Linked DNA regions of Homo sapiens: region 2 is linked to region 1. A link means that fine-mapping ties the variant in region 1 to the expression of a gene that starts in the linked region. Tissue or cell type: whole blood. Region 1 holds a variant in brackets; the other region holds the start of a gene. All regions are shown on one strand. Distances are from middle to middle.

What was found. PIP is the estimated chance that this variant, and not a neighbour inherited with it, causes the effect.
Region 2: ITGA7 starts here. The variant in region 1 is fine-mapped to the expression of ITGA7 in whole blood (TOPMed, PIP above 0.99).

The regions. Positions count from the first base shown.
Region 1 is chr12:55,668,675-55,672,921 of GRCh38, forward strand. No RefSeq gene overlaps it. Among named protein-coding and RNA genes, the nearest start is that of TMT1B, 11 kb to the right of the region's middle. The variant G/A (reference allele first, on the strand shown) is at 1,621.
Region 2 is chr12:55,706,083-55,710,220 of GRCh38, forward strand. ITGA7 (integrin subunit alpha 7) reads right to left here and starts at 1,822. Exons shown (of 25, transcript NM_002206.3): 1 at 1,395-1,822. The coding sequence starts at 1,600. RefSeq lists a silencer at 1,736-1,945.

The sequences.
Region 1 (4,247 bases):
GCGGTGGCTCAAGCCTGTAATCCCAGCACTTTGGGAGGCCGAGGCGCGCGGATCATGAGGTCAGGAGATCGCGACCATCCTGGCTAACACGGTGAAACCCCGTCTCTACTAAAAATACAAAAAATTAGCCGGGTGTGGTGGCGGGTGCCTGTAGTCCTAGCTACTCGGGAGGCTGAGGCAGGAGAATGGCATGAACCCCGGAGGCGGAGCTTGCAGTGAGCTGAGATCGTGCCACTGCACTGCAGCCTGGGCGACAGAGCGAGACTCCGTCTCAAAAAAAAAAAAAATACAAAAATTAGCTGGGCATGGTGGCGGGTGCCTGTAATCCCAGCTACTCAGTAGGCTGAGGCAGGAGAATCGCTTGAACCCAGGAGGTGGAAGTTGCAGTGAGCCGCGATCGTGCCACTGCACTCCAGCCTGGGCGACAGAGCAAAACTCCCTCTCAAAAATAATAATAATAATAATAATAATAATAGCTAATTCCCTTGTATCACATAAGTAACAGCCCTTTTAGATCTAGGTTTTAAGAAGAAAAGAGTTTCTTGTGGACCCTTCCTCTCTCTCAACCCATGTTAAGCTTCAGATTTTAGCCAAATAATAACAATCTTTCTTCTTTACAGATTTTATCAGGTCCAAAGTGGCAAGGAACTATCTCTGGTTCCATGAATGAAGAAGACATTGCATGCTGCATCCAGTTTCTTCACAGGTTACCAAAGAAGCAAGCACACCTCACCATAGCAAGGATTAATTTTTCTATCAAGTCAAGACAATCTAGTTTCATATTAAGAAAGCATAGGCTGGGTGCAGTGGCTCGCGCATATAATCCTAGAACTTTGGGAGGCCAAGCAAATGGATCACCTGAGGTCAGGAGTTCGAGACCAGCTTGGCCAACATGGTGAAACCCCATGTCTACTAAAAATACAAAAGAAAATTAGCCGGGCGTGGTGGCGGGTGCCTATAATCCTAGCTACTCGGGAGGCTGAGGCAGGAGAATTGCTTGAACCCAGGAGGCAGAGATTGAAATGAGCCAAGATGGTGCCATTGCACTCCAGCCTGGGCGACAGATCAAGACTCTATCTCAAAAAAAAAAAAAAAAGAAAAGAAAAGAAAAGAAAGAAAGCATATATTGCCCCTAATGTTAACATTTTTACCATATTCCTTCCAAAATGATAACACTAATATGACTGCACCAAGGAATTACTGAGTTTCTGAGCCTGCACTAGCTCTAACAGGTCACTCAGTCCCTCCCAGGTCATGGGTGCGAGCTCCAAATTCTGATCCACAACTCTCTCTCCTGACAGAAAGAAAAGGGAGGTCTTAGAACTTCTTAAGTGTATAATAGTTCACATTCTAACGTGTATCTGGATGGTTTCAATTATTTTTGCTGTGAAATATCAAACCATCGTATTTGAACACAAGAGAATGACATGCAGGAGTCACACAACAAATACATATAACAAGAGCACATTGGGGTGCTGGGAGGGCACGCGCTCTTCTGCAACTTCACCCCATGCTCCCTGTAAGATGTCCTTAGAAACAGAGGCCTGAAAGTCTGCTAACTTCAGTAAAAAGCAGGACATTTTAACAGCCACCCCTTCAAAATGTAAAAATATTGCTTCA[G/A]ATTGCCAAAAACCATTTTGCACTGAACATTCTGACCTTTACCCCAACCCTGAGCCTCACCCCATTCCTGAAGCTTGCCCTATCCCTGACCTTCTGAGCTGAGGGCCCAGCCCCAGTCCCTGCCCCAGCCCCAGGAACTACCTCATCTGATTCTCACCCTGACCCATGCTTGCTGACCAGGCCTCTGACTATCTGGCCTACCACTTCCATCTAGGCCCACTTACTGCCACACCTAGCCAGCCTGATTTTGGCTAGATCTATTTAGTCCTATTTAGCCAAGCCCAGTCCCAGTCCCAGTCCCAGTCCCCAGACAGCTCCTGTTTAACCCTGCCTGTGAGATGCTGAGTCTCCAGACCTGCTCATCTGGTCACACCTACTAGATTCAAGTCCTTTGCTCTATTTCTCCTGAAGTCTGGCTCTAACATCCGTCAGCCGAGCCCCACAGAGCACTACTTCCTGAGGAGCAAAAGAGACCTAAGACCTGAGCTCACAGGCTCCATCCTTTCCCAGGCAACAGAATTGTTTTCTCGGACAGTGCCTCTCAAAATGGAATGCACATTCGAATGACCTGGGAGTCTTGTTAAAAATGCAGATTCAGATTCAGTAGGTCTGGAGTGAGGCCCTAAAGCCTGCATTTCTAACAAACACGCAAGTGAAGCCCATGTTGGTCCAGAAAACAAACTTTAATTAGCACAGTTCTGGAATACCAATTATAGTTTTGCAAAATTAAAAAAAAATGTTTACAGTATCAACAGCCTTAATTTCTACTAAGGGAAGAGAACTCATCCCCCCATAGAATGCTCCAGCCTACAGAACTTAGAGTCTGTCCCACATATATTGTGCACTAATCACACAGTGCTTTGAATTTCACTCAATAGTTTCCTATATGTGTGTTTTATTATTCATTTGGTTCCTTTACAGCATTTGTTCATTCTGCAAACATTATTGATCATTAATCTATTAGGGCCATAAGAATATATAAGGCATAGTCACTGTGTCCCATAAGGCAACAGGCCATTAAAGAAGATAGATATGGGCCAGAAGCGGTGGCTCACACTTGTAATCACAACACTTTGGGAGGCTGAGGGGGGCAGATCACCTGAGGTCAGGAGTTCAAGACCAGCTTGGCCAACATGGTAAAACCCTGTCTCTACTAAAAATACAAAAAATTAGCTGGGCATGGTTGTGCATGCCTGTTAATCCCAGCTACTCTGGAGGCTGAGGCAGGAGAATCACTTGAACCCGGGAGGTGGAGGTTGCAGTGAGCCAAGATCACGCTGCTGCACTCCCGCCTAGGCGAGAGAGCAAGACTCCATCTCAAAAAAAAAAAAGATAGATAGATATGTAAGCAGATCTTTTCAGCACAATAACAGTATATGTATATAGCGTGGAGGAAAAAGAGACCTGTAACCCCATTGGAGTTGGGGAATCAACAGGAAAGCCATTCTGGGCAAAAAAGTAGCCTGAGCTGAATCTAACAGAGGAGTGAGTCAAATGAAGTGCAGGGGACCCACAAGGCAGAGGAGCAGCCTGGCAGAGGCCCCCGGGTGAAATGGCTGGGTCAGAGAAGAGCTGCACACACCCAGGTTGTTGGGGCACAGTTAGCAGGGAGGAAGCCTCCAAGAAGAGGCTGAGGTGTCAGCCAGGGAACGATCACAGGGACCTTGTGTGCCACATTAAGGATCTTGGACTTTAGCCTGTGGACAATAAGGAAACAATTTAAGTTTTTAAATAAGGCCAAGGCACGTTTGGGTTTTAGGTAAATCACGTTTGGTGACTGTGCAGAAAATTAAACTGAAGGTGCCAAAACTAGAAACAGGCTGGGCAAGGTGACATAAGCCTGTAATCCCAACACTTTGGGAGGCCAAGGTGGGAGGATTGCTTGAGCTCAGGAGCTCGAGACCAGCCTCGACAACATAGCAAGACCTCATCTCCACTAAAAATAAGTGTAAAAAATTAGCCAAGCATGGTGGTGCGTGCCTATAGTTCCAGCTACACTCTGTTGTCCAGGCTGTAATGCAATCGTATAATCATGGCTCACTGCAGCTTCAACTTCCTGGACTCAAGCAATCTTCCCACCTCAACCTCCTAAGTAGCTCAAGCAATCCTCCTGCCTTGGCCTCCCAAAGTGCTGGGATTACAGGCGTGAGCCACCACATCCAACCAATGCTACCTTTCTAACACCTGTATAAATATCCTCCTCTCTGTCCCCACCACTATTGCCTTACTTCTCATTAGCCTTTCCTGGTACCATAGCAAATCATCTCTTAACTGATCTCCCAGCCTCCAGTATTTTTTCCCTTAAATCAAACATCGGAGAAATGTTTCCAACAGACTAATCTGACTATCTTAGTCTGTTTTCTGCTGCTGTAACGTAATACCACAGACTGGATAGTTTATAAAGAATAGGAGTTTATTTTGCTTGTAAGTCTGGAGGCTAGTAAGTCCAAAAGACCATGTTGCCAGTGTCTTGTGAGGGTCTTTGTGCTGTGTTATCCCATAGCATAAGGGCAAGCAAGTCCATGAAACAGAGAAAAAATTAAGCCTATTCTCATGATAACTAATCCGCTCCTGTGACAGTGGCATCAATACATTCATGAGGGCAGAGCCTTCACAATTTAATTGCC
Region 2 (4,138 bases), 37 kb after region 1:
GAGAGGAGGGGGAAATGACAAGAGACCAAGCTATTAAAAATAACCTAGAATTTGCCTGGAAATAGCTTAGAGAGTTCAGCATGTCCTAAAAAGGCCTCCAGTCCTCGAACTCTGACAGATGGAGAAGGAGGGAGGAAGGGAGGGAGGGAGCAAAGGTGAATGAGGAAGCAGATGGTAAACAGAAGAGGAGATGAAGTCCGTTGCTTTCTATCTCTCCCAAAGTTTTGGGGACCACCGACCCTGCTACCAGATGATAGGGATAATGGAAGAAGAAAGATTAGAGCTAGGCCCCCACTCCCCAAGCAAGTGAGGAGAAATGAGCTCTTGTCCCTGCCCCCTGCCCCCAGACCGACAGTAGAGGCAGAAGACAGTCCCAGTGGACAGCATTGATCCCAGTAATGGATACTTAATGTGGCTTAGGCACTGGTTGAAGAGAGAAAAGCCCCCTAGCAGGAGCAGGTGAGAAGCTTTCTTCACCTCTGGCCTCCCTTTTTACAATCAGACATGTAGCAAGAGCCAAGGATACAGGCAACATGACCAGTCACAGGCCCCTCACAAAAGTATATCCATCTCCCATGGGTCCTGAACTGATTAGAAAAAATTAGAATTGTCCTCCACCCCTTACTCCTCCTGGCCCTTCCCAGCTGCTGAGATTCCTGGAGTTGGAAATTTGCTAAGGAGGAGGAAGGGGAGCAGCCTGGCCAGCATCCTTCCTGGATCTCTCTCACTGCTACAGCTGCTGCGGCTACTACTACTGCTACTAGTACTTTGAGGGTTCAGTTTGCTGCCACTCTCTATCACCAAGCCACCTACTGCAGGTTGGCAGACCTGCAGATCCTCTCCCAATCTTCCCGTGGTCTTAAGCCACAGAAGTGGAAGCTCTCTCCTGGCCTTCCAGTGCCCTGCTGCCCTCATTCCATCCATGGCAATGCTCTAGCAGGAAGTTATTTCTGGAGTCTGCCCTGCATGCATCCCTCTCATGGCACCCTCAACTTCTATGTCCTTTCCATCTCCTCCCATTCTAAGCAGAGACAGACAGTCTCCCTCCCTTGGGGAATTCAGCCCTTGGAAGAAGCAGGGGAGCCAGAGGCCCTGGGGCTGGATCAAGGATGCAAGTTGGGGGAAAGGCCCAGAAGAAGGAGATGGTTCGCTGCCAAGACAAGAACCTTGCTTTCCAACTCATCCCTAAAGCAAAATACTGGTCTCAGGGCCGGGAAGTGCAGCTTCAGACGCAAGCCAGATGAGGCAAGGCTCCAGGTTGGGATGTGGGATGTCTGTGGGCAGTCTAGGTCTTGGTGGGGCTAGAAAACAGAGAAATGAGGAGGCCCACAGAGTGGGGAGGGGGACGATCTGTGGCTCGGGCATGGCGACTCTGGGCGGGTGCGGTGACTCACCAGCTCTGGGGTCGGGGCTGCAACTGCCGGTGCAGGGCCACAGAGAAGCCGAAGAGGCTGCCTGGCTCGCCCTCCTTGCGCAAGGCACCCATCACGTCCAGATTGAAGGCGACAGCCCGTGAGAAGAGCAGTTCGACGAGCAGGGAGCCAAAAAGGTAGCAAATCCCGGAGGCCCCCCAAGGGTCGCGGCTCCGAGCCCCGGCCATGGGACGATCCCTGCGCGAGCTCCCAGCGAATGCAAGGGAAATCTCGCACGCCCCAAGCCCCAGGTCCCCCCAGGCGCGTCTCTGGTCTCCAAAGTCTCGTTGGTCTTTCAGACGTCTCCCAGACGTTCGCCCCGCCAGCCCTCCCGCCCGCCCGCCGCTCCGCCACCCCGCCGCCCCAGCACCGGCTAGGACAACTACAGCAGCCGCAGCTCCGGCGCCCACTCCGGCTCCCGCCTCCTCTCCCGGGGACGCCACTCAGGCCCCGCCTCCGGCCCCGCCCCTCGCTCCCGCGGCAGGTGGAGACCCAAGCCCGTCTCCAAGGGGATGCCCAGGCTGGTGGCTGGGATGGAAACTAGCCTTGCTGACCCCCCACCACCACGCCCCCCAAGCCCAGCACCGTCTCCGGCTCCGCCCCTGCGCGGCGCTCTCCTCCCCTTCTCCCCCAACCCCATCCCCACCCCGGGAGTGGTGGAGGCGGCGCCTTGGAATGCGGAGGGAGAGAAGTACAGATAGAAAGAGAGGGGCTGAAACAGAGGAAGGAGGGTAAGAGATGAGAAGTTGGGAAGACGCTAAAAGACAACCTGGGAAGAGAGATGTGCAGATAGAGAGGAAATGAAAGGGGAGCCGTCCTGGGCCTGGGTGCAGCGTGGCATCTTAGTGCTCCCTGTTCCCCCATGGTCACATAGAGCACTCTTTCTGCTGTTGGGATCAGACCGCTGCCCTCCCCCATCCTATCCCATCCCCCGCCCCCAGCCCGGCAATGACCACAGCAGTGCTAGCCACATCGTCAGGATTCAAGGGAACAGAGAAAAAGAGGCAAGAAGAGAGAGAGAAACTCGGGAGATACGGGGAGCAAATGGAGAAATGGAAAAAGGAAAGGAATAGAGAGGAAGAAAGAAGGGCAAGAGATTAATTGACAAGGGATGGAATGAAGGGAGAAAAGAAAACGACTGGGGATGATTACAGGAAGAGGAAATTAAGCAGTGGGGAGGGGAGTGGGTGTCAAAGAAGGCAAAGATGAAAGAGACTGGACCCAAGAGGCAGAGGGATGTAAAGGGTGTCCCCAGCTACCAGACCCGTCCCAGGACTGCACATTTCCTATCCATGAAAGGGGATGGGAGGGGGCAGAGTCCTGGACTGGCTCAGCAGGACCTGGGTGGGGCTGAGATGGGATCTCCACAGGGACCCATTGGCCTGTCCCTCTTCCTCTCCCTTTCCCTCAGGCTGGGACAGAGGCAAGGGGGTGGGGGGACACTTTCCAACTCTCTGCTATTTATAACTCCGATACAGAAATGGGGCCAGAAGGAGAGACAGGAAATAATTTGGCATAATGGGAACCTCGAATGCTCCCACTTCCCCTTCCTACTCCCCTTGCTTACTGGTGTTGGTCTTGTGAATATACATCTGTCCATCTTCCCTTCTCTCTCTCACTATCTGATTTTGTCTCATCCCAAATTCTATTTTGTCATCATTCTTGTCTCTGCCACACTTGGAATCTTTCTCAGAGTATTTCTCAATGTTTCTAGTGTTGTCTCTGCCCTTCAAACACTATCATATTCTTACGATTCTTTCTTCTCTTTCCCTTTCTTAAAAGTTCCAATAAGTGTCCTACCTCCTTCCTCTTCCTGTGTTCTGTCTTTCCTACTTCATTGTTCAGGATTATACTTCTTTGAAAACAAAAAAAAAGTGGGTTCTTACTCTGCTGCCCTGGGACAGTCTTTGCCTTGGATAAGTTAACAGACATTTGGAAGTCTGGCCCTCTGTTTTCCAATACTACACCTGTGGCTATCCCCTCCAGAGCACTAACACATCTCTAAACAGGTACTATAAGGAAATACATATGCTGTCAGCAGGGCTGGCACCAGGATTCTACTTTCACCATGCCCTCCCCATCCTTTTTAATATCTCAGAGCCCCAGACAGTAGAGAAGAGCTGACATGGGAATGCAGAATTGCAAAATTAGGACAGAACTGGGACTACTGACTCCCTGCCCAGGTCCCCCCGCCCCCGACCCAGCTCAAAATGCCTTTAGAGCCCAAGCTGCCTCCTATCTGCACCTGCAGCTTCTGCCTGTCTCCATTCCCACTCCACTGGCTTCTGTGATCCAGGGCTGAAATCAGATGCCAAGAATCTGCTTCTGACCTCCTCTCTCCAAATATTTGAGAAGTCACCTCACCACCACAGGAGGAAAGATCAGGAAAGAAGAGAGAGAGAGGCCACCCAAAATTAGCCTGGCTATAAATAGAGGGGCAAAGGAGGGAGGGGAACACACAAGAGCGTGCTAGACCAGCCTAGTAAATTTAGACATGTAGATTTCTCTCAAGGAGAAATGAGACCAGAATGTTGGAGTGGAAGATAATATCGTAGGTGAAGAGGGAAATTAAGAAACTAGACGGGGCCGGGCGCGGTGGCTCACGCCTATAATCCCAGCACTTTGGGAGGCCGAAGCAGGCGGATCACCTGAGATCAGAAGTTCAAGACCAGCCGGACCAACACGGTGAAACCCTGTCTCTACTAAAAATACAAAAATTAGCCGGG